Homo sapiens: one gene and its partner. The protein of the gene in region 2 interacts with the protein of the main gene of each other region in a pairwise test. Each region holds a gene or a part of one and is shown on either strand. Other genes may lie near its edges.

Evidence for each region.
Region 1: the proteins of RRAS2 (region 2) and RGL3 interact in binary tests that used the Homo sapiens proteins (3 or more experiments, as listed by UniProt).

The regions. Positions count from the first base shown.
Region 1 is NC_000019.10:11,409,232-11,418,630, forward strand, and holds part of RGL3 (ral guanine nucleotide dissociation stimulator-like 3), read right to left. Parts: intron 7,829-9,399; coding exon 7,605-7,828; intron 7,437-7,604; coding exon 7,383-7,436; intron 6,918-7,382; coding exon 6,706-6,917; intron 1-6,705.
Region 2 is NC_000011.10:14,273,524-14,289,919, forward strand, and holds the end of RRAS2 (ras-related protein R-Ras2), read right to left. Parts: intron 8,198-16,396; coding exon 8,079-8,197; intron 7,039-8,078; coding exon of another isoform or gene 6,901-7,038; intron 5,902-6,900; coding exon 5,814-5,901; 3' UTR 4,399-5,813; downstream 1-4,398. UniProt on the Homo sapiens protein: GTP-binding protein with GTPase activity, involved in the regulation of MAPK signaling pathway and thereby controlling multiple cellular processes. Regulates craniofacial development.

The DNA of each region.
Region 1 (9,399 bases), on a different chromosome or scaffold from region 2:
GCACTTTGGGAGGCCAAGGCGGGTAGATCACGAGGTCAGGAGATCGAGACCATCCTGGCTAACATGGTGAAACCCCGTCTCTACTAAAAAATAGAAAAAATTAGCCAGGCGTGGTGGCGGGCGCCTGTAGTCCCAGCTACCCAGGAGGCTGAGGCAGGAGAATGGCGTGAACCGGCGAGGCGGAGCTTGCAGTAAGCCGAGATCATGCCACTGCACTCCAGCCTGGGCGACAGAGCGAGACTCCATCTCAAAAAACAAAACAAAACAAAACAAACAAACAAACAAAAACAAAAAGAAAAGAAAAACATGTTTGCAATAATATGCACCTAGAACCTGACTATTTTGTTCATAAACACAAATTTTTTTGGCTCCAAGAATGCAAGGACCACGAAAGTCTGGGCTTTGTTTTGTTTGCAAATTGCAAATGTTGTTCACAAGTTTGGAAAATGATGTCCCCAGAACCTATGTTGCTGTCTTTGCCTCACCAGTGCCCTCCTGTGCGTTCGTTGGTGCTTGTTGCTGTCAGTACAACAGCACCGTGACACTCTACTGTGACGCTAGGACAGGCAAAGACACGGGACAACCTCATCATGTGTCCTAGTGGGGCATACCCAAGCATTACCCATTGAAAACATGGTTTATTGCTGTGTAAGTTACTCTCACTTTCCTTCTCCTTTGTACTAGTTATGGCATCATACTATTATTTTATTTTATTTTTTTATTTTGTGATGGAGTCTTGCTCTGTCGCCCAGGCTGGAGTGCAGTGGCTCGATCTCGGCTCACTGCAACCTCTGCCTCCAGGGTTCAAGCAATTCTCCTGCCTCAGCCTCCTGAGCAACTGGGACTACAGGAGGTGCCACTATGCCCAGCCAGCTAATTTAAATATATATATATTTTTTTATTATTTATTTATTTTTTATTTTATTTTATTTTATTTTTTATTTTTTTTAGTAGAGATGGGGTTTCACCATGTTGGCCGGACTGGTCTCGAACTCCTGACCTCAGGTGATCCTCCTGCCTCGGCTTCCCAACGTGCTGGGATTACAGGCATGAGCCATAGCACCCTGCCCCAATACTATTATTTTAAAATAATCTTTGTAAATCTGTGTAATTACCTCTTTCATCTTGAATTAGGACAGGTGGCATTGCAAAATATTAGTTTTTAGAAGTGGGTACTGGGCTGGGCACACCTATAGTCCCAGCACTTTTGGAGGTTGAGGTAGGAGGATTGCTTGAGACCAGGAGTTTGAGACCAGCCTGGGCGGCGTAGTGAGACCCCATGTCTACATAAAAAAATTTTTAAAGTTGCGCATCCTGATGCACACCTGCTGTCCCACCTACTCAAGAGGCTTAGGAGGGAGGATCTCTTGAGCCCAGGAGGTCAAGGCTGCAGTGAGCTGTGATCATGCCATAGCACTCCAGCCTGGGTGACAGAGCAAGAAACTGTCTCTCCTCCCCCCACCCCAAAAAAAAGTGGGCCCTGGAAAAAAAAATGCCCTACATCTAATCAAACCTTTAAATCTTACAGCAATTATGGGGATAGAGAAACATGCTGCATGAAACCATGAGGTAAGTCGAAAAGAATGTGAGACATACCTCAGGAAAAATGACCCATTTTTTTTGCCCTCTAATGGCTTCAAACAAGAGGCAAGGGGGATCTGTTACAGAATAAAAGAGACTTAGGAACAAACGACCGGTAGGGCGTGGTGACTCATGTCTGTAATCCCGACACTTCGGGAGGCCGATGTGGGCAGATCACTAAAGGTTAGGAGTTCAAGACCAGCCTGGCCAACATGGTGAAACCCCCTCACTACTAAAAATACAAAAATTAGCTGGGCGTGTTGGTGGGCACCTGTAAACTCAGCTACTCAGGAGGCTGAGCCAGGAGAATCGCTTGAACCCAGGAGGCGGAGGTTGCAGTGAGCCAAGATCACGCCACTACCCTCCAGCCTGGACAACAGAGTGAGACTCCATCTCAAAAAAAAAAAAAAAAAAAAAAAGAGAAGCAAACAACCAAATACCTTGAGTAGATCTTTGGATTTCAATTTGAAGAAACAACTATTCCTCCTTCCCCCAGCTCTATCGCCTGGAGTGCAGGGGCATGCTCACAGCTCACGGCAGCTTTGATTTCCCGGAGTCAAGAGATCCTCCCATCTCAGCATCCTAAGTAGCTGGGACTATAGGCATGTGCCACAACACCTGGCCAGAAACAACTGTCAAAAGAAAATTTAGGGCTGGGTGCCATGGTGGGCACCTGTGGTCCCAGCTACTCAGGAGGCTGAGGTGGGAGGGTCAGGAGTTCAAGCCCAGCCCAGGCAAAATAGGAAAACCCAGTGTCCAAAAAAAGGTTCAGGCACAAACAGGGGATTTGAATATTTGAATATAGACTGGGTATTTTTTCTGTTTTTGAGGCAGGGTCTCGCTCTGTCACCTAGGCTGGAGTACAGTGGCATAATCACGGCTCACTGCAGCCTTGACCATCCCAGGCTAAAATGATCCTCTTGCCTCAGCCTCCCAAGCAGCTGGGACTATAGGCAGTCACCACCATGCCCAGCTAATTATTTGTAGACACAAAGTTTCAACATGTTGCCCAGGCTAGTCTCAATCTCCTGGGCTCAAGCCATCCACCTGCCTTGGCCTCCCAAAATGCTGGGATCGCCAGCAGGAGCCTCTGCATCTGGCCTGGATTGGATTTTTTTTATATCAAATATTTCTGATTTTTTTTTAAGTATGAACATGAAGGTTATTAAAAAATAAAAATAAAAGGGCCGGGCGCCATGGCTCACGCCTGTAATACCAACACTTTGGGAGGCCAAGGTGGGCGGATCACCTGAGGTCAGGAGTTCGAGACCAGCCTGACAAACATGGAGAAACCCCCCTCTCTACTAAAAATAGAAAATTAGCCGGGTGTGGTGGTGCACGCCTGTAATCCCAGCTACTCGGGAGGCTGAGGCAGGAGAATCACTTGAACCCAGGAGGCAGAGGTTGAGGTGAGCTGAGATCCTGCCATTGCACTCCAGCCTGGGCAACAAGAGCGAAACTCCGTCTCAAAAAAAAAAAAAAAAAAAGTAAGCCTGTTGTCAGACATGTGTACCCAAAACATTTATGTATGAATTGACATAAGCCCGGGATTTGTTTTAAAATCATCCTGAAAATATTTTTTTGTGAAATTGATCATCGTTGATGATAGGTGATGGATGTCTGAATGTTCTTCATACTATTCTCTCTACTTTTGTATATGTCTGAAATTTTCCATAGCAAAAAGTGAACCCAAAATAAAGTTGTTAAAATAAAATAGATGAGCATGGTGGTCATCTACTTTCTTCTAAACTACATGGTGCAAGTGTAGTCTTAGCTACTCAGGAGGCTGAGGTAGGAGGCTCACTTGAGCCCAGGAGTTCGAGTCCAGCCTGGGCAACAGAGCAAGACCCTGTATCTAAAAATAAAATTCATAGTCGGGTGCGGTGGCTCACGCCTGTAATCCCAGCACTTTGGGAGACCGAGGCAAGCGGATCACGAGATCAGGAGATCGAGACCATCTTGGCTAGCACGGTGAAACCCCGTCTCTACTAAAACTACAAAAAATTAGCTGGGCCTGGTGGCGGGCGCCTGTAGTACCAGCTACTCAGGAGGCTGAGGCAGGAGAATCACTTGAACCCAGGAGGTGGAGGTTGCAGTAAGCCAAGATCGCGCCATTGCACTCCAGCCTAGGCGACAGAGCGAGACTCTGTCTCAAAATAAAATAAAAGTAAAAATAAATAAAATAAAATAAAATGAAATAAAGTGTGTCCCAGGGCCTAGCACATAGAAGGTCTTAAACAAATGTTAATTTTCTCCTCTGACCTCAAAGAAACTAGGGCAGCACTTTCCATATAATTCTCTGCAATGGTGGAAAAATTATCTATCTGCTATGTCCAGTGTGGTGGCTGAGCACTCAAAATGTGGGTAGTGGGATTGAAGACCTGAATTTTTGCCTTTGCTTGACTGGATTTTGAAAAAGAAAAAAAAAAAAAAAAAAAGCGGGCCAGGCATGGTAGCTCACGCCTGTAATCCCAGCACTTTGGGAGACCGAGGTGGGTGGATCACCTGAGGTCAGGAGTTCAAGACCAGACTGACCAACATAGTGAAACGCTGTCTCTAATAAAAATACAAAATTAGCTGGGTGTGGTGGCAGGTGCCTATAATCCCAGCTACTTGGGAGGCTAAGGCAGGAGAATCTTTTGAACCTGGGAGGAGGAGGTTGCAGTGTGCCGAGATGGCGCCACTGCACTCCAGCCTGGGTGACAGAGCGAGGCTCCGTCTCAAAAAAAAAAAAAAAAAAAAAAGGGCAGGGTCAGGCACAGTAGCTCACACTTACAATCCCAGCACTCTGAGAGGTTGATGCTGGAGGATTGCTTAAGCCCAGGAGTTCGAGACCAGCCTGGGCAACATGGCAAGACCCCATCTCTAAAAAGAAAAGACCTGAATTTTATTTAATTTTAATTAATTAATTAATTATTATTATAATTTTGTTTTTTGGTTTTTTTTTTTTAGGCAGAGTCTCGCTCTGTCACCCAGGCTGGAGTTCAGTGGCTTGATCTCAGCTCACTGCAAGCTCCGCCTCCCAGGTTCGCGCCATTCTCCTGCCTCAGCCTCCCGAGTAGCTGGGACTACAGGCGCTCGCCACCACGCCCGGCTAATATTTTTTTGTATTTTTAGTAGAGACGGGGTTTCACCATGTTAGCCAGGATGGTCTCGATCTCCGAACCTTGGGATCCGCCCCCGTCGGCCTCCCAAAGTGCTGGGATTATAGGCATGAGCCGCCGCGCCCAGCCAATTTTAATTAATTTAAATAGCGACAGGGGCTAGTGGATACCACAGTGAACTATGGAGCTCTAATGACTTGGAATCAGCTGGAGAAATCATATATATATATATATATATATATATATATATATATATATATACACCTATATATATATACCTTTATATATATATATACCTTTATATATATATACCTTTATATATATATATACCTTTATATATATACCTTTATATATATATACCTTTATATATATATACCTTCATATATATACATATATATATATACCTTCATATATATATATATACCTTTATATATATATACCTTTATATATACCTTTATATATATATATACCTTTATATATATACCTTTATATATATATACCTTTATATATATATACCTTCATATATATACATATATATATATACCTTCATATATATATATATATATACACCTTCATATATATATATATATATATATATATATATATATATATACCTTTATATATATATAAATAACTGAGACTTTGTCACCAGGGATAGAGAAGTGGCTGCTACTTTGTAAATTGGACAGGAAGGTGGCCACTATAATCTGGAGATTAAGCGATGGGGATTAGGGATAGAGATGCTTTTGTGATGTGGATCAGATCAAATACAGATGGGTGAAAGATGATACTTCCTAAGCAGGATGCAATTATTCAGCAAACTAATCTGTGTTGTTCCTGCCCCTGGGGACAGAGCTGGGAGCAAGAACAACAGGTCCTCCTCTCATGCACTCACAGCCTATGAGATGAGCAAAAGCCAATAATCAAGTAAGGAGGCTACGCATGCACAATGGCTTATGGCTGTAATCCCAGCATTTTGGGAGGCCAAGGCAGGCAGATCACTTGAGTTCAGGAGTTTGAGACCAGCCTGGGCAACATGGCACAACCTCACCTTTACAAAAAAATTAGCCGGGCGTGGTGACATGCGCCTGTGGTCCCAGCTACTCAGGAGGCTGAGACAGGAGAATGGCTTGAGCCCAGGAGGTGGAGGTTGCAGTGAGCCAAGATTGTGCCACTGCACTCCAGCCTGGGTAACAGTGCGAGACTCTGTCTAAAAAAAAAAATAGATAAAAAAATAAAATTAAATTAAATTAAATTTAAAAAGAAATTCAAAAATAAGAAAAATTTTACAGGCTAGGTATAGTGGCTCGCGCCTGTAATGCCAGCAGTTTTGGAGACCCAGGCGGGAGGATCACCTGAGTCCAGGATGTTGAGCCTGCACTGAGCCATGATGGAGACACTGCACTCCAGCCTGAGCAACGGAGCAAGACCCTGACTCAAAAAAAAGAAAATAAAGACAAGTATCAAGGCAATGGTTTGTAGCTAGAAACACAGAGCATCCTGACCCAACGGCACCAAGGAGGGAAAAGTATTAGACACATGCTAATACTTCAGACAAAGAATTTGTTTTTTTTTTTAGACGGAGTTTCGCTCTGGTTGTCCAGGCGAGAGTGCAATGGCACGATCTCGACTCACCGCAACCTCCGCCTCCCGGGTTCAAACGATTCTCCTGCCTCAGCCTCCCGAATAGCTGGGATTATAGACATGCCCCACCACGCCCGGCTAATTTTGTATTTTTAGTAGGGATGGGGTTTCTCCATGTTTGTCAGACTGGTCTCAAACTCCTGACCTCAGGTGATACACCATCCTTGGCCTCCCAAACTGCTGGGATACAGGCGTGAGCCACCACGCCCGGCTGACAAAGAATTATTATCCCCATTGTAAAGATGAAGAAATTGAGGCTTAGAGTTTAAAATCTTGCTTAAGTTTTGTAGCTCTGAGAGGGGAGAGAAAGCCTGTGTGGGAAGAAGCAGACAGGAAAGGCCTTCTCAGAACACGACTGGATCTGAAAACCCCTCACCTGTCCACACCTGAGGCGGCTCCTCTTCCTGCTCTCGCTCAGCCTCCTCCAAAAAATCTTCCAGAAGCTTCTCTGCTTTTTGAGCCTCAGCACTCCCTGGGGCCGCCCAGCCCAGAAAGGTTCGGACACTGCCCAGGTCCGAATGGGCAGGGTGGTCTCGGAAATCCTGAGGGTGGTCCTGCAGCCAGGAGCCCAGCACTGACACCACAGCCCTGGCCAGAGAGGCAGGGTCTCAGAGCTGGGTCCAGAGTGGGGGACATAGAATATGACTCCTGGTACCTTTTTTTTTTTTTTTTTTTTGAGATAGAGTCTTACTGTGTCACCAAGGCTGCAGTGCAATGGCCTGATCTTGACTCACTGCAACCTCAGCCTCCCGAGTAGCTGGGACTACAGGCATGCGCCACCACACCCAGCTACCTTTTTTTGTTGTTGTTGTATTTTTAGTAGAGACAGGGTTTCGCCATATTGGCCAGGATGGTCTCTAACTCCTGACCTCCAGTGATCCACCTGCCTCGGCCTCCCAAAGTGTTGGGATTACAGGCATGAGCCACCACGCCCCACCTGACTCCCAGTCTCTTATTACCCAACCTGCAATTTTCAAAACCCCAGTCCGACTGCTAACCTTTGACCTCTTGGATTTCCCTCCCCGCACTCCCCTATCTGGATGAAGGACCCACCTCAGGTTCTTGTTGAAGCTCAGATCTTGTACCGCTGTCTTCTTGATCTCTACCCTGGGAAGAGGCCCCCCAGCAGGTGAAGAAGGGGGAACCTAGAGGGGGCTTAGGAAGAGGGCTCTGGGTCTGGGAGGTGTTTCCAGGTTCCACACCTGAGGAGGTGGAGGGGGGTGCCCAGTTGGGGTTCTAGGGTGGAGAATACGGAGGTTATGGTTCGCTACTGACCCGGGAGGTGGGGGCGGTGGCATTGGTGGCAGCAGAAAGCCCAGCAGGCAGGCAGTGGGTACAAAGGTCCGGTAGGTGGCCAGGAAGGCGGGCATGAAGCTGGGGTCCTGCTCACGGTCTCCAAACACCAACTCTCCCACCAGCCGCTCCAGGCGCGCTGCCCTCAGCACCCTCACCTTGCTGGTTCGATAGTGGAGGAAGGTATTGGCAATGGGGCTGGGAGCCTGCAGGAGGGGAGAGGTGGCCATGAGAGAGCAGGAGTGGTCCTCACAGCACCCCTTCTCTAGTCACATTCATCACTAGCACCACTCTTTTTTTTTTTGTTTTTTTTTTTGAGACAGAGTCTCACTCTGTTGCCCAGGCTGGAGTGCAGTGGCACGATCTTGGGTCACTTCAACTTCTGCCTCCTGGGTTCAAGCAATCCTCCTTCCTCAGCCTCCAAGTAGCTGAAACTACAGGCGCACACCACCAAGCCCAGCTAATTTTTGTATTTTTGTAGAGATAGGGTTTCACCATGTTGGTCAGACTGGTCTCGAACTCCTGACCTCAAGTAATCTGCCCCCCTTGGCCTCCCAAAGTCTCCCAAAGGGCTAGGATTACAGGCGTGAACCACCGTGCCCAGCCCCTAGCACCACTTTTTTTTTTTTTTTTTTGAGACAGAATCTCACTCTGTCACCTAGGCTGGAGTTCAGTGGCGTGATCTTGGCTCACTGCAACCTCCGCCTCCTGGGTTCAAGCAATTCTCTGCCTCAGCCTCCCAAGTATCTGGGATTACAGGCACCCGCCACCAAGCCCAGCTAGTTTTTTCGTATTTTTAGTAGAGACGGTGTTTCACCGTCTTGGCCAGGTTGGTCTTGAACTCCTGACCTGATGATCCACTTGCCTCGGCCTCCCAAAGTGCTGGGATTACAGGCGTGAGCCACCTCGCCCCGCCTGTAGCACCATTCTTTCATGTGATTCCTCTGTCTCCCGGCTTCTTGGAGTTATTGTTTTGGTTTGTTTTTTTTAGAAACAGGTCTTGTTTTGTTGCCCAGGCTGGGGTGCAGTGGCACAATCATAGCTCACTGCAGCCTCCAAGTCCTAGACTCAAGCGGTCCCTCTGCCCCAGCCTCCTGAGTAGCTGGGACCACTGCTGGGCATCATCACGCACAGCTAGTTTTTTAATTTTTATTTTTATTAGAGAGAATCTTGCTGTGTTGTCCAGGCTGGTCTCCAATTCCTGGCCTTCTGCCTTGGTCTCTCGAAGCGCAGGGATTATAGGTGTGTGCCCCACTCCCTGCCCGCTTGAAGTTATTGTTCCTCCCCATCCACAAATAGCTCCTGCAACTTGCCCTGGAAACCCTCCCTCTCCCATGCCCTGTCCCCTACTCCCTCTCCCGTCCCCTCCCCCTCCCGTCCCCTCCCCCCACCCCCCCGCCCCCGCCCCACACACTCTTTTCCACCCAGGGCTTCCCTCAGCCCTCCTGTCGCGCTTCACTGGCTGCCCCATCCGCCCTCACCTAGCCACTTCTAAACCAACCCCATTCCACCTTCCAGCCCCGGCCCTCTAAACCTGCCTTTCCCAACTCTGCCGTCCAGTTCTGTCCTTACCAAGTTGTCCCTAGGCTCCTCTCGGGAACTGCGCGGCCATCGCCTGGCCCCACCCCATTCCCTGGATCTCCCCCCACTTACCTGGCCGCCCCCAGTCCCCTTTCTACCTGGTCGCCTCATCTGGTCGCCTCCGAGCCCCTCCCTTCCTTCCGCCCACTGCACCTGGCGGCCTGTGCTCGGCTCTCCAGCTCCGCCCTCAACTGGT
Region 2 (16,396 bases):
TTATGGAGACAGGATCTGGCTATGTTGCCTGGGCTGGTCTTGAACTCTTGGTCTCAAGCAATCCACGTGCCTTGTCGTCTCAAAGTGCTGGGATTAGAGGCATGAGATACTATGCTTGGCCCCTACTTACCTGTTAAGTGGGATCATTACGTATAGCGTACAGCTATGGGAAAAGAAATAAAATGAATTAAAACAAGTGGTGATAAACAGAAGAGGAGCAAGCTAGACAAAGTATATACAACCTTGTTACATCACATTTTAAAAGTCAAATGATAAAATAGTCAATAAGGGCACAATCTATGCCAATAAGGGCATAATGTCCAACTCTGAGATACTGTAAATCTCTAAACAAACAATATAGAAAGAAAACACCTAGAACACAAATTCATGACCATCCATTCAGGAAATGCTGTCTGAAAGAACTTCCACATAAAGAGACTTAAGAGATTCTAAAGAATCGCTCAAATGCTAAATGTGCTATAATAAAGCAGGGCTGGCAAACCATGGCCTGTGGGTCAAATCCATCCCACCATCTGTTTTTGTACAGAATGGTTTTCACAACTGCAAAAAGAGAGTCATATTTCATGACATATGATGATGACATGAAACACAAACATCAGTATACACAAAGTTTTATTGGAACACAGCCACATTCATTTAGACATTGCTTATGGCTGCTTCAGTGCTATAATGGCAGGCTAGACTAGTTGGGACAGAGATATAGCCGCCAAAGCCCAAGATGACACTTACAATCTGGCCCTTTATGAAAAAATTTGCAAACTCCCAATTATAGAGAAAAAATGGCCACATAGACAAGGACTATTCATTCCATGAGACTGTCCACTCTTTTTAAGAAAAGTTTCAAGTCAGAGATTTAAAAAGCTACAAGGCAAATGGGAAACACTTCAACTTCCAATCACAATGGAGTAACAGGAACCAGATTAACCCTCCTATCTTAGACAATTTAAAAACTGGACTAAGCCGGGCACAGTGGCTCATACCTGTAATCCCAGCACTTTGGGAGGCTGAGGCAGGCGGATCACGAGGTCAGGAGTTTGAAACCAGCCTGGCCAACATGGTGAAAACCCGTTTCTACTAAAAATACAAAAATTAGCTGGGCATGGTTGTGCGAGCCTGTAATCCCAGCTACTCAGGAGGCTGAGGCAAGAGAATTGCTTGAACTTGGAAGCCAGAGGTTGCAGTGAGCCAAGATCGCACCACTGCACTCCAGCCTGGGCAACAGAACATGACTTTGTCTCGGAAGAAAAAAAACTGGACTAGTCGGGTGTGGTGGCTCACGCCTGTAATCCCAGCACTTTGGGAGGCCGAGGGGGGCGGATCACCTGAGGTCAGGAGTTCGAGACCAGACTGGCCAACATGATGAAAGCCCATCTCTACTAAAAATACAAAAATTAGCCAGGTGTGGTGGCACATGCCTGTAATCCCAGCTATTCGGGAGGCTGAGGCAGGAGAATTGCTTGAACTCAGAAGGCGGAGGTTGCAGTGAGCTGAGATCGCACCACTGCACTCCAGCTTGGGCAATAGAGCAAGACTGTGTCTCAAAACAAAAACAAAAACAAAAACAAAAACCCTAGACTAAATACATTCAGACATTGTACACCAGGTAGCAAAGGACTACAATCCTGATGGAAGGGAAAGAAGTTGGGTAAGCCTCAACACTGCCCTGGCCATCTGCCTGGAGGCACATTCCAGACTGTAGAGGGGATGGGGGATTCCATGTAGAACACAAATGTTTCCCTGGGCTGAAAGGAGACATTAAAGAACAGGAAGTCTGAAACAACTAGAAGTCACAGGACAAAGTTGTGCTGAGAAGACAGCTACACATAAAAAGAGATCCAAAAACATGCATAGAGTTTATGAGTCTTTGCTGACTATTAAGATACATATGTCTAGGATGAAAACTCCAGGAGGTTGGGCAAAGAATGACCCAGGAACTGTGAATAGAATTGTTCCCTAGAGCTCACACGGGGCTGGGAATTCTTTGAGTTCCCACAAGCCAAATTGATAATTCAGGGCATTCAGCAGACAGACCCCAAAAGGGTCATACTTTAGTAGTGGAGCTAAACTAGCCTGGGAAAAAGGCTACTTGAGACTGTATTAGCTTTAAAAGAGATCTCGAAAGGATCAAACTGAACTGCAGTCAGTAAATTAACTATCAGAACGAAACCCAACAAAGACGCCAACAAAATCTAGATACCCAACAACATAAAATACACAATGTCCTTCATCCAACCAAAACTTACTTGGCATGTGAAAAAACAAAAAAAATGTGACCTATAACTAGAGAAAAATCAGTCAGTAGAAACAAATCCAAAAATTATACAAGCAATAGAATCAGCAAAGACTCAAAACAGCTATTATAACTACATTCAAATATTCAAAGCAGTCTTTCTCAATCACAGTTCTGTAAGAGAATTGAGCCCCACAGAAAGTTATTTGAGGAACTATTTTCTTTATTTTCCCAAGGATGGTACATGGCTGTGCCATTCTAGATGCAAACGTACAATGCAAATTTTCCAGATGCAAATTGGGCCCTAATGCCGTATCTGTTGTGTGTTAATTCAGGGCTCAATGTTCTGCAAAACCAGTTGAGAGGGGCTGGTTAAGAGGAATACATGAACATAATGAGGAGAAAAACAAAATATATATATATATACCCAAACATAATTTCCAGGGGGAAAAAAACCCACAAAATCCAAAATGAAAATTCACTGGATAGGATTCATAGCAGATTAAACAGCAGCAAAAGAAATGGTTATGGGGATCGGGTGTAGTGCCTCAAGCCTGTAATCCAAACACTTTGGGAGGCTGAGGTGGGCAGACAGCTTGAGTCCAGGAGTTTGAGACCAGCTTAGGCAACAGGGCAAGACCTCATCTCTACACAAAGTATAAAAAGTAGCCAGGTGTGGTAGAATGTGCCTCTGTAGCCCCACCTACTCAAGAGGCTTAAGGGGGAGGATGACTTTGAGCCCGAGGCAGGTTGCAGTGAGCCAAGATGGCGCCACTACATGCCAACCTGGGCAACAGATCAAGACCTTGTCTCTACTAAAGAAGGGGAAGAGGGAGGGGAAGAGGAAGAGGGAGGGGAAGGGAACAAGCAGGGAGGGAGGAAGGGAGGGAGAGATGGAGATGGGACTTGAAGATGTAGTAATAAAAACAATCCAGCCAGGCACGGTGGCTCACGCCTGTAATCCTAGCACTTTGGGAGGCCAAGGTGGGTGGCTCACGAGGTCAGGAGTTCAAGACCAGCCTGGCCAAGATGGTGAAACCCCACCTCTACAAAAATTAGCCAGGCATAGTGGCAGGCACCTGTAATCTCAGCTACTTGGGAGGCTGAGGCAGAGAACTGCTTGAACCATGGAGGTGGAGGTTGCAGTGCAGATCACGCCACTGCACTCCAGACTGGGCAGCAGAGCGAGACTGTCTCAAAAAATAATAATAATAATACAAAGTAAAGCATAAAGAGGAAAAAAGGTAAACTGAGATAATAAAAGTTGATGGGTTTCTCATTAAATCTGGATATTATGTAAGCAATCTCGTTATCTGAAGTTAACTAAAACAAATAAACTTTGCCAACTGAAAGTACTACCAAGGATACATGATAGTGCTACAGTAACAAAAGCCACAGGATAAACATGGTATCTTCCTGGGCAGTAATTGTACTAGAAGACATGGAAGATAATTCCATATCAACATAGTTATACTATCAAGTACAGTGCATAATTACACAATTTTTTTTTTTGAGACACAGTCTCAATCTGTCACCCAGGCTGGCGTGCATTGGCACGATCTCAGCTCACTGCAACCTCTGCCTCCCAAATTCAAGTGATTCTCCTGCCTCAGCCTCCCAAATAGCTGGGATTACAGGCACCCGCCACCACACCCAGCTAATTTTTGTATTTTTAGTAGAGATGGGGTTTCATCATGTTGGTCAGGCAGTCTCGAACTCCTAACCTCAGGTGATCCACCTGCCTCAGCCTCCCAAAGTGCTGGGATTACAGGTGTGCGCCACTGCACCCAGACAATTATATTATTTTTACTGGTCTTCAAATAAATGTGTGTGTGGCTTTAGCTGTTTTCAGTTTCATCTTCATGGGGTATCTGTGTAGGTATTCACCTTCCTCTACAGTTGGGTTTCTATATCAGGAGCACTTCATAGAAAAAGTTTAAGAAACACGGACTTAAGTAAATATTCAACAAGTCAAAGAACATCAAACTGTTTCACATCCCCTCCACCTGCTGAATGACCAATGCTGACTTCTAGATTCAAACCCTAAGGCACTGGAGAAAAGGAACAGAGCTACTAAAGTAAGTTTCACTAACACTTGTTCCCTTAAGAAACCACTTAATTAACACAATGAGTAATCAAACATCATCTTGTGATAACAGATCAATTTTAATTCTAGCACCTGAAGCTATACAAGGGTATGCTCTATAAACTTCATGGGACTGTTGTACACACTTGATAAAGTGACAACTGTGCAATACCACTTAGCATCTCAAAATCAGGAACATACTATTGAATTGCTTAAACACAATCCACAGAATTAAAAACAAAATCAGATGCCATCCACAGTTATACTAATTATCCATTAAAAGCTTACACTTAATACTTGAAATAACAATCAATATCTAGCAGGGAATACTGAAAGTGATTTCAGAGTCTCATCCTGTTGTACTCTATTGGGAAGGTTTCTTGAGTAGTTATGTGACTGGCCAAAGATGGGTACAACCAAGACCAGACCAGCAAGTAAAAGTTCTACCACAGTTTCTGTAGTTTCCACTTGTTTTTCTTTGTCAGTTAAAAGTGAACAGTGAGAATTAAATACTTATCTTTACATATACACAAGGTATGCTATGAAAGCATATCTGCTTACAAACATATAAAAATACTTGTTAACTAGTTTGATAAGAAAATAATGTATAAAAGTATATAGCAAAAACATTAATCATCTCTGACCCTGGAAAGATCAATTCCATATTTTATATTACAAACAAAAACAGTTTTAGTTTTTTGAATCCCTTACCCAGAAATACTTGAAAAGGAAGACAGAAGGAAATTATTCCTTTTTACCCTTAGCGTGGCTGTGAAAAAGAGTTAAATTAAAAAATCAAGTACACTGAAATATCTAAGTCCTAAATGAGTCCAAATATTTGACCACATAGAATATTATCATCTCCAAGAGTAGGAGTAGTAACACAGGGTTTTATAAGCAGTTTTTAATCCATAAATACAACAGGCATTTGGTATTTTGGCCATCAGAAAACAAAAGTTGTAGTATCAGTAAAGGTCTGAGATGGTTCACTTTTGTAGATTCAATTCAGTGTATTTAAGGTTAACAAAGGCTGACATTGAAATGTTTAAAGATAGGCAAAAATTCACATTAAAAAAAACCCTATATTTCTATTTAGAGTAACAGTAGGCAGTATGATTCCAAAAGTTAAAAATTATTTCACAACCTGTAGCTTCAGCTTGGCAAACAGCTTAGATTCCAAAACTGATTCATCTCTATTAAAATGTAAGCACTTAAAAAAAGAGCATGTCTGTGTATATAGACATATATTTTAAAGGAATCAGATAATCTTTGAAGCAGCCTTAGTGTTTCCTTTAAATTTGTCTGGAAATGACCATTGTATTAGCTTCACAGAAAGGACTAGCCAGCTTCTTCGTCTAAGGCTAACATGGTGATCATTTGTCTAAGGCTAGAAAGGTACCAACAAGATGTAAACTGAGGAGAGAAAGAGAAGATGAGGGCTTTTCCTGGCCGTTGGTAGCTAAAACTGAAGGGATTCTAGAAAATGACACAATGGCAGCCTTTCTTGTCTTTTTCTTTCCGTGTTGGTTCTGGTGAAGGAGGACATTCCTGCTCTTGAAATTTCCTGTAAGATAAAAAATTCTAAAATATAATTGCCTTCTTGGTAATCTACTATTACAAACACAGGTTATTTTTTGTACAAGTTCACTTTTAAGTGTGTATGCTTTTCAGTGTTAAACTTCAACGAGGGAATTTCTCTCTTTCCTACCCCCACCAAAAAAGGGCACAAACGCGTCAACACCAGCACAAGCAGAGCTATGAAGCTGCTTTAATGGATGAGTCCTGAATCAGACGAGATACTAGACTCAGTAATCTCTAAGTTCCCATCCCAATTTGAAATTCCATGACTCTAAGGTATCCTTAAGAATAAAGATTCATCATTAGAGTGCAATATAAAATTAACCTTATGAGGTATGCAGGTCTTATCTGTGTTCTGCCATTTTTTAAATTCAGTATTAGACAAAGTTAGTTGACCTAGTCTGAGCCCCAGTTTTTTTAGAGGGGAATAATGGAAACCTACCTTTCACAGCTGTTGTGAGGATTAAAGATCTTGTGATGTTAGAATATATCTAATAGCTCCTGGCATTAAAAACAAAACAAACAAAAAACCTCCTCTACTTCTCCCCTCATTCCTGAATTACTGATGGGTAAGGAGAGATCCTAAGAACCAAAACAAAGGACAACATTTCAAAACGGCAGTCATAATTATTTTAAGAAGGCACTGCCTCATCAGTTGCTTAACACTAAAATGGAACTGGAATGGGAAAGGGGGGTAAAATACATATAACATAAAATTTTCCATCTTAATCATTTTTAAGTATACAATTTGATGGTATCAAGTATATGCATGATGTTGTGCAACCATCATCGCCATCCATCTCCAGATCTCTTTTTCATCTTATAAAACCGAGACTCTTACCATTAAAAAAAAATGGGACTGGGATTTTTAACAAACTACTAAAAAAGAAAAAGCTATAACCTTCACTTTTTTTTCCTCCACAGAAAGACAATGCCTTGGCAAGGAGCTAATAAGTAGAAGATCATCGCTCAGGTGTCAATTTACCTTAGATACAAAATAAATACGCAGCCCAGGTGCGGTGGCTCACGCTGTAATCCCAGCACTTTGGGAGGCTGAGGCGGGTGGAACACGAGGTCAGGAGTTCGAGACCAGCCTGGCCAATATGGTGAAACCCCATCTCTACTAAAAATACAAAGATTAGCTGGATGTGGTGGCAGGCGCCTGTAAATCCCAGCTATTCAGGAGGCTGAGGCAGAGAATTGCTTGAACCCAGGAGGCGGAGGTTGTAATGAGCCGAGATCACACCACTGCACTCCAGCCTGGGTGACAAAGAGAAACTCTGTTTCCAAAAAAAAAAAAAAAAAAAAAAAAAAAAAAAGCAGCCCACTTCACATTCCTATCAAACTGTCTAACTAGCAGAGAATCCCAGATCTACAGAGCAGAGTATGAAACAGGGGCCAGGCATCAAGACCCAAAATAATAAATCAAATCCTACTCACTAAAGCAACTTCATCTTTCTCACCCACAAACGTACCTCGTAATTCTATCAGACCTCACCCAACACCTTAAGCTTCCTGGAACCCGTTAACACTTTTTAAACCAAAAGGCCCCCTATGGCATCTAACAGAAAAATTCTCTGTTGTGTGGGACATTATACTTCACACCTTACAGGATTATTTAATCTCTACTACCTGGTTTACTCTTAGCCTGGGATGAGCTGGATAAAAAGAAAGGTAGGAGCACAGGCTCTGGAATCAGAGGTTTGAATTAAAGCCCCAGTTCTGCCATTTAATATGTCTTAATTTGAACAAGCTATTTAACTTCTTTCTCTGTACCCCCATTTTCTCCTCTGAAAGTGAGGATAAAACAGTATTTAGTTTATTGGGCGAGGGTGAGGATTACATGTAATAATACACGTAAAAACGTTTAGCACAGAAGCTGGCAGAGACTACCATGCAAAAGTTAGCTGCTGTCATCACTATCTTCACACCATCACCCCCTTTGGAAGCAGCATTTATTCTTATCAAAATCCTATGTGTACTTTATACTTCATAATTAAATTATATTTTATATTCTAGAAGTGCCTAGAATATGTACTTAAAAATTGTAATGCACCATGTGCATTAATCCCTAGAAAGGAATCACTTCCATATAAAATATCCTTACTAAAAACATTTAATAGTAATTTATTAAAACACACATCTAGAATGTGTTTTGCTTACCTGATAACCCGGACAAGTTCATGGAAAGCTTGATCTACATTCATCCTAATCTTTGCTGATGCCTCCATGTATGTTACCTTAAGCTGCCGTGCTAACTGTTGTCCTTCTTCCTGTGTTACCTGAAATTCCAACAGTTATGTTTATGGTACATTATTAACAACTGGATTTGTTCCATCTAATCCTGGCCACAGATTGTGCTAATAATTCAGCCAAGAGGCCAAGTTGTTTTATCATAAGGTGAAACAACAGACTTAACAGCTCAAGATAAACTAAAGCCCACCTCTGCAGAACAATGCAGAAGAACATATCTGTGATGGAAATACTAGCCTACAACAATATTTCCAAATACAGATCACACAAAAAGTATTAAATACAACAGTAATACATTCTGGGAAGGGAAAGTGTAAGGTGCTATTAAAGTATACAACCCTGTCAGGGAGATGAGCGAAAGCTTCCCTGAGGAAGTGACATTTAAGCCCAGAAGATAACAGAGTATGGAGTTGAGGGGTGGAGGGTGGGGGTGTGAAGAAGTATCCTTGCCAGAGAAAACTGAATGTGTGAGGCCATGAGAGTGAATGGGCTTTCCAAGAACTAAAAGAAGCGTCACATAGCTGGAATACATTAAGCAAAGAGAGAAAATGGCAAGAGGTGAGGATGGAGAAAAGTGTAAGTTTCAGAGGCCATAAGGTCTCTTCATCATTGCATTCCCCAAAACCTGGTACACAGGTGACACTCATCAATATGTGGGGAGAAATGAATTATGAATGCAATCACAGGCCCTCACAATGCCTTATATTTTGGAGATCAAGGAAAGGTGGCATAGCTGATTGATGTATAAAATGGCAGGTCAGAATAAGAAAACATAAACTGAATGTAAGTTCCTACATGTTTTAAATGTAAGGATTTGAATAGTGATGTTTACTAAAAATTATTAAACTCTATTACATTTACATTTATATAGTGGGGCTTAAAATTATATTTCTGAAAACAATACCTTTTATGGCTATTATTACAAAAGTAAACACCTGATGAAAAATTAGAAAAGCCAAATTGGGGGGAAAAAAAAAATCAAAGAAAATTTAAGAACCTATCAACCATAGAGAATCATGTTCTTTTGGTCATTTTTCAATGATACATAGTTTTTAACACTATAAAAATAGGATCATAATTTTTGTATATCTCATACTCTGGAAGCATTCTGAACTCATTTATCTAGGAGTTCTTTTGTAAATTCCACAGGCATTTCTACATAACCATGTCATTTGCTAATAAAGACAATTTTATTTCTTGCTTTTTGATGTGGATATCTTTTATCTCCTTTTCCAGCCTTAGTGCACTACCTAGAACCTCCAGTACAATGACATAAGTGGTGACGGGAATACTCTTGACCTATTTTGGATCTTAGAAACAAAGCTAGTTTTTCAACATTAAGTGTGCTGTCAGTTAGAGAATTTTTTTGTAGATGTCCTTTCTCAGGTTAACAAAGTTCTCCACTACTCCCTTTGCATAAGGCGTTTATCAGGAATGGATGGCGGATTTGCCAAATGTTTTTTCCTGCATCTTACTGAGATGATTATATGATTTCTCCTTTTTAGACTGCTAATATGATGAATTATATTGACTCACTGTCAAATATCAAACCAACAACCCATTGCAGGAATAAACTCTCCTTGAGTGATATATTGCCCTTTTTATATATTGTTAAATTCTATTTAATATTTTATTAAGAATCTTTATATCTGTGTTCATGAGAGATATTGGACTGTGGATTTCTTATGCTTTCCTCTGGTTTGGGTTTCTGAGTGCTATGCTGGCTTCACATAAGTTGCAAAGAATTTTCTCTCCTCTTCAATGTTCTGGAACACTTTGTACAGAATCAGTAGTATTTCTTCCTTAAATGTGTGGTATAATTCACCGGCAAATCTATCTGGGCTTGAAGTTTTCTTTGAGGTACGTTTTTAAAACAAACTCAATTTATTTTGTAGATAAAGTACTACTGATATTATCTTTTTTTTTCCCTTGAGTGAATTTTGGTAGTTTGTGCCTTTCAAGTAATATGTCCATTTCATTTAACTTGCTGAATTTATTGGCATAAAGTTGTTTATAGTATTTATTATCTTTCAAACATCTGAAGGATCTAAAGTGAAGATACCGCTCTCAATCCTGATATTGTGTCTTTTCTCTTTTTTATCTGATCATTCCGGCAAGAGTCTTGTCAATTTGACTGATCTTCCAAAAAGCCAGTTTAGGGTTTTTATTTTTTATTTTTTTTGGTAGAGGTGGGGTCTCACTATGTTACCCAGGATGGTCTTGAACTGCTCTGCTGGGCTCAAGCAATCCTCCTGCCTCAGCCTCCCAAAGTGTTGGCATTACAGGCATAAGCCACTACACTCTGCCAGTTTTTCTTTCCTTTATGGTTTTACTATTTTCCATTTCATTGGTCTTCATTCTCTTATTATTTCCCTTCTACTTACTATGGGTTTTAATTTTCTCTTTTTCTTCTTATTTCTTAAGGAAGAAACTAAAGGTCATTGAATTGAGACCTTTGTTCTAATACAAATATTTAGTGCTACAAATGTCTCTATATATACTTCTTTAGTAGCATGCTATAAATTTTGATGTTGTGTTCTAATTTTCATTCAGTTCATGATACTTTGTAATTTCCCTTTTCATTTTCTTGACCCAAGGGTTAGTTGGAATATGTTAATTTCCCAATATTTGAAGATATCCTAGATACCTCTCTGTTATTAATTTCCAAGTTAATTCTACTGTGGTCAGGAAATTACACACTATCTGACTAAAATCCTTTTAAATTTATTGAGGCTTACTTTATGATCCATTCTTCTTTCAAAAGAAGGTGCATTCTACTGTTGTTGGGTAAAGGGTACACTTAATGTCAATTAGGATATGTTGTGTTCAGTATTGTTGTTCAAGTCATCTGTATCCTTACTGATTTTCTTTCTACCTTCCTATCAGTTATCGAGAGGGGTATTGAAGTCTCTGATTTTAAGTGTGAATTTGTCTATTTTTCCTTGTAGTTCTTAACATCTTGCTTCAAGATTTTTGAAGCTATTAGATCACGAATGTTTGGGACTGTTATGTCCTCTTGAGGAATTAATCTCTTTATCATTATATAACACTCTTCTTTATCTCTGGTAATAGTCTTGGCTCTGAAATCTTTATCTGATATTCATATAGCTACTTTAATTATTTTCATTATTGCTAGCCAGGCAATCATGAAAATAATTAAAGTAGCTATATAAATATCTTACTCCATCCTTTTACTTTAACCTTTGTGTCTTCACATTTAAAGTAGATTTCTTGTAGCATCTTGTTTTTTTATTCAATCTAACACATCTGCCTTTTAATTGAGACATTTGGGCAATTTACATTTAATGTGCTCATGGATACAGTTGAGTCATCTTGCTATTAGTTTCCTATCCATATTATCTATTCTTTGTTCTAGTTGTCTTCTTTCTCTACCTTCTTTTGGGTTAGCTGAGTTGTTTTTATGATTGCATTTTACCTCCTTTGTTGGTTAATTAACTATATATCTGTTATTTCAGTGGCTGCTTCAGAATTTATGGTATACATTTTTAATTCATGACAGTCTAATTCAAATGATACCATACCAATTCAAGTATGGTTTAAGAATCTTACAACAGAGCCAGGTGCAGTGGTGTATGCCTAAAGTCCCAGCTACTTGGGTGGCTGAGGCAAGAGGATCACTTGAGCTCAAGAGTTCAAGGCCAGTCTGGGTAACACAGTGAGAACCCGTCTCTCAAGAAAAAAACAAACTAGTTAACAACAATATTTCTCCCTCCTGCTCTTTTTTGTTATTAACTTTTACTTCATAATGCGTTTATTTTTGCTTTAAATATTCAGTTATGGTAAGAGTAATTTATATTTATCCACATAATTACCATCTCTGGTACTCTGTATTCATTTTCAGATTTCCATTTGGTATCATTTCCCTTCTGCCTAAGGACATCTTTTCACATTTCTTGTAATGCAGATCTGCTGCGGATGAATTATCTCGCTTTTACATGTCTGGGAAAAGTCTTTATTTCATCTTCATTTCTGAAATAAATTTTTAGTAGGTAATGAATCCTAGTTGATAGTTTTTGCTATCAGTACTTAAAAGATTCTGCACCACTATCTTCTGGCTTCACTGTTCAATGAGATGCAATGATGACTCCTGCCATCCTTATCTTTGTTCTTCCATATGTAATGTGCTCTTTTCCCCCCGTCTGGCTATTTTTCAGATTTTTTTCTTTACCACTGATTTTAAGTGATTTCATTATAATGTATCTTATAATTTTCTTCATATTTCTTGTGCTCCGGGTTTGTTGAGCTTCTTGGATGTGTGTATTTTTCATCAAATGTGGAAATTTTCAGCAATGACTTCTGCTGTTAATCCCATCCAGTGCATTTTTCATGTCAGACATTGTAGTTTTACTTCTGAAAGTTTGATTTGGATCTGTTTACACCTTTCATGTCTCTAACATGTTTTCTTGATTGCATAAAATAACGGTCAAAATAACTGTTTTAATGTCTCTGTCCACTAATTCTATTATCTTTGTCATTTCTGGATCTGCTCCTATTAATTATTTGTTTCCTTATTGTGGGTCATATTTTCTTGCTTCTTTATATGTATGGGAATTTCTGAGTAGAAGGCTGGGACTTTTACGTATCAGGTATCAGATATTTTGTATTCCTAAACACATTCCTGAGCTTTCTTCTAGGATGCAGTTATTTGGAAATACATTATCCTTTCAGGTCATGCTCTAGGTTTTGTTACAGGGTACCAGAACAGCATTTAGTGTGGCTAATTTTGCCCCACTACTGGGACAAAACCCTTCTGAGTTATACTATCCAATACTCCAAGAAATATAAGGTTTTCTACTTTGATTGATTAGAATATGAATTATTCCTAGCCCTGTTTGAGCTCAAGGTATTGTTCCTTCTAAACGTTTTAGGTAATTTGTTCTCCCAGTTTAATATTCTATTCCAAAAATTTAGCAGCCTCAATACAGTATCATTAGTTTAGTACACCAATATACATATATCCAACAACTACTTCATAACTGTTTGTGCCCTGTGGCATTCCAACAGGATAACGGGCAGGTTCTACATAGCACTGGTATATCTAAGTTTATCTAACTTTTAAATTTACCTTGTCTCTCTTCAAAATAACGTATGTGCCACAAGGCTATGCATTTGAAATATAAACTGATCAAGTTACCCGAACAATTAACGATAAGGAAGGAAGCCGAGTAAACACAGAAAGCTTCACAGAACCACCAATTTTAGACAGGACAATTTCTGTTTTAGGAAAATTTGACATGTGAAATTCCTTCATATAAAATACCCCTATGCCGTCACAAATTCTGTTTCTTCTTCCTGGGATGTCATCCCTTCTCTCTCAACTCTACACTCTCAAATTCTTCCTCACTAACCTTTCAAGCCCTGAGCAATGAAACTTCCCCCTAAGTGTTGGTGCTGTTTTGGAAGCACCTTCTCAGAGCTCCCATCACACCATCTGGTTACCACTGACAAGTCTCTAACAATACCACAGTAAAATTTTTCGTTGTGTTTTCTTATTCTTTCACCACGTCATCATGTCCTCTGAGGCTAGGAAGTTAAGACAGGTTTGTCTTTGTACATCCAAAGCTTAGAAGCATGCTTAGCAGCTAAAAAAGTAAACACATGTTAAGTAAATGGTGTACAACTAACCAAATAGGTACATCCTTAAGTTAAAATATATATATATACACAAAAAGTAAAAGAAATCTCAATAAACTACTTACTTTGTTGGGGTAAATATGATTGGGGGAAGGAAATACACGTACTTATTAGAATTTTTCCAGTAGCTTTCCTGCTCCATTATTCCTCAAAAAGATACCTTGTCCTACCCATCATGCATAATGTAATTCACATAAACAGGAATAGCAACTCACCTATCCTTATATAGGGTAAAAAAAGTTAGGCCAGGCATGGTGGCTCATGCCTGTAATCCAAACACTTTGGGAGGCCGAGGTGGGTGGATCACCTAAGGTCGGGAGCTCAAGACACGCCTGGCCAACATGGTGAAACCCTATCTCTCCTAAAAATACAAAAAGTAGCCGGGTGTGATGGCACGGGCCTGTAATCCCAGCTACTCGGGAGGCTGAGGCAGGAGAATTGCTTGAACCCGGGAGGTGGAGGTTGCACTGAGCCAAGATTGCGCCACTGTACTCTAGCCTGGTTGACAGAGCAAGACTCTGTCTCAAAAAAAAAAAAAAAAAAAGAAGAAGAAAAAAACGAAATGTTAATTAATTCATGGTCTACATGATAAAACAATCCTGCTGCTAGGGTTATGTGCTTCACTTGTTTTTGTTTTGTTTAGTTTGGTTTTGGGACAGGGTCTCACTCTGTCACCCAGGTTGGAGTGCAGTGGCATGGCCACAGCTCACTGAAGACTCAACCTCCCAGTCTCAGGTGACCTTCCCACATCAGCCTCTTGAGTAGTTGGGACTACAGGCACGTGCCACCATGCCTAATTTTTTTTTATTTTTAGTAGAGGCAGGGTCCTGCCACGTTGTCCAGGCTGGTCTTGAACTTCTGGGCTCAAGGGATCTGCCTGCCTTGGCCTCCCAAAGTGCTGGGATCACAGGTGTTTGCCACCATGCCCAGCCATTTATTTGTTTTTAAAGCATGGTTTCACATCACTGTCTTCCAGGAAACAAAGCCAACAAATTTATACATACATTTCTGGTGAAGAAATCTCTAACCACATGCTTGTGAGCTGACACAGCATACTTTTAACTAAGTAGAAATAGCATTGCCATCACCAAAGCAAACAATAAAAGACAAAAAGGACAACATACCGGAACAGAGCCATAGCACTGTGGAAGTTAGAAATCAAAAGAAAACTGAAAGTTACAAAAGTAAGTACTTCCTAGAGGTTCCTCAACCCAGATAATTTCATAAAGATACCAAATAATATTAAGCCTCATCTCCTGGATATTCTGATTTGGTAGATTTTAGCACTTCCCAGACATGTTTTGTTTTAAATAACCAGGGCAAATCTGATGCAACAAATTCACAGAACTACATTTGGAAGCTTCCAGTAAGACTCAGTTCAAAAACACAGGTAGCAGCAGCAGTTCACAATAACATGTATGAGCTCATCTAGTACTACATATTTCCAAATAGAATAAACTACATTTCAGTGCTCAGAGTTATGTCAAGTTAATGAAGTTTACAGAAGCAAAACTTGTTTTCACAAACATCTATTATGTAAAAAGAATCATCACATTAATACAACGTCTTAACTCACTGGCACCCAGATTCATCCACCCAACAAATACTTATTTAGTGCATACCTCTGTTCTATATGCTAACGATAAAGCCTGAACAAAATTGACCTGTCAAAACCGAGAAACCCTCATAGTACCTACACCTACATTCACCATCTAAACCCTTTTAGACGCACATAAGGCACAGATAACGCCACATGTGGTAAGATCCTCTACTATTTGAGGAGGGGTTCTTTTTCCTAGGAGGCTGTAGGGGGCACACTGGTCAAAAGTACTGACAGATGGGAGTCTGGATTGATATACTTAGCTATCTATTATTTTAAGTATAATAAGTTATTTTCTCAAATTAATAGTAACGATTAATAATTAAGCAACTAAAAGGAGGGGAAAAAGAGGGAACAACCAAGGTAAGCCAGGAGAAAGATGGTAAAGACAAAAAAGCAAAGACAGTTGATCTCTAGACAGGGCTGAGTTGAGGACAAGGAACTTGAAATCAGATATATCATGAAATTCCACTGTCTAAGCCAACATACTGTGCTATTTAATTTCAGATTCAAGTGTTGTTATATTTACCTACTTTCATATTTTAGCAAAGTTAAGCAAATCATTTACCTATGTTTTCTTCCTACACCTTTAGCAGAATAAACAAAATGACTGGCATATCTTAAGGGACCAGATGGCTGGTAATACTAAACAACCACTCAAATTCTACAGATATCTTTTTATCTCACGTAAACCTCAGTGACTATTCTGTCTACTGCTGCATCATCACTGCCTAGAAAAGGTGTTCAATAAATACTGGATGAATGGATGGAAGGATGAAAGAAGCAACCCAGTCCACAGATACAGAGGCCATAAGCAAGCAAGCAAAGCCTCTTCTGGATGATATCCCTGAACCCTGGTGGGGTTCAGAATCTCAGGAGCCAGTGGTAGAAATGGCCAGTGCTGACCCACAAATTCAAAGAACAAGGAGAAATGGCATTTATTATCTACAAGAAAATAGGCTAGAAGGTAAAG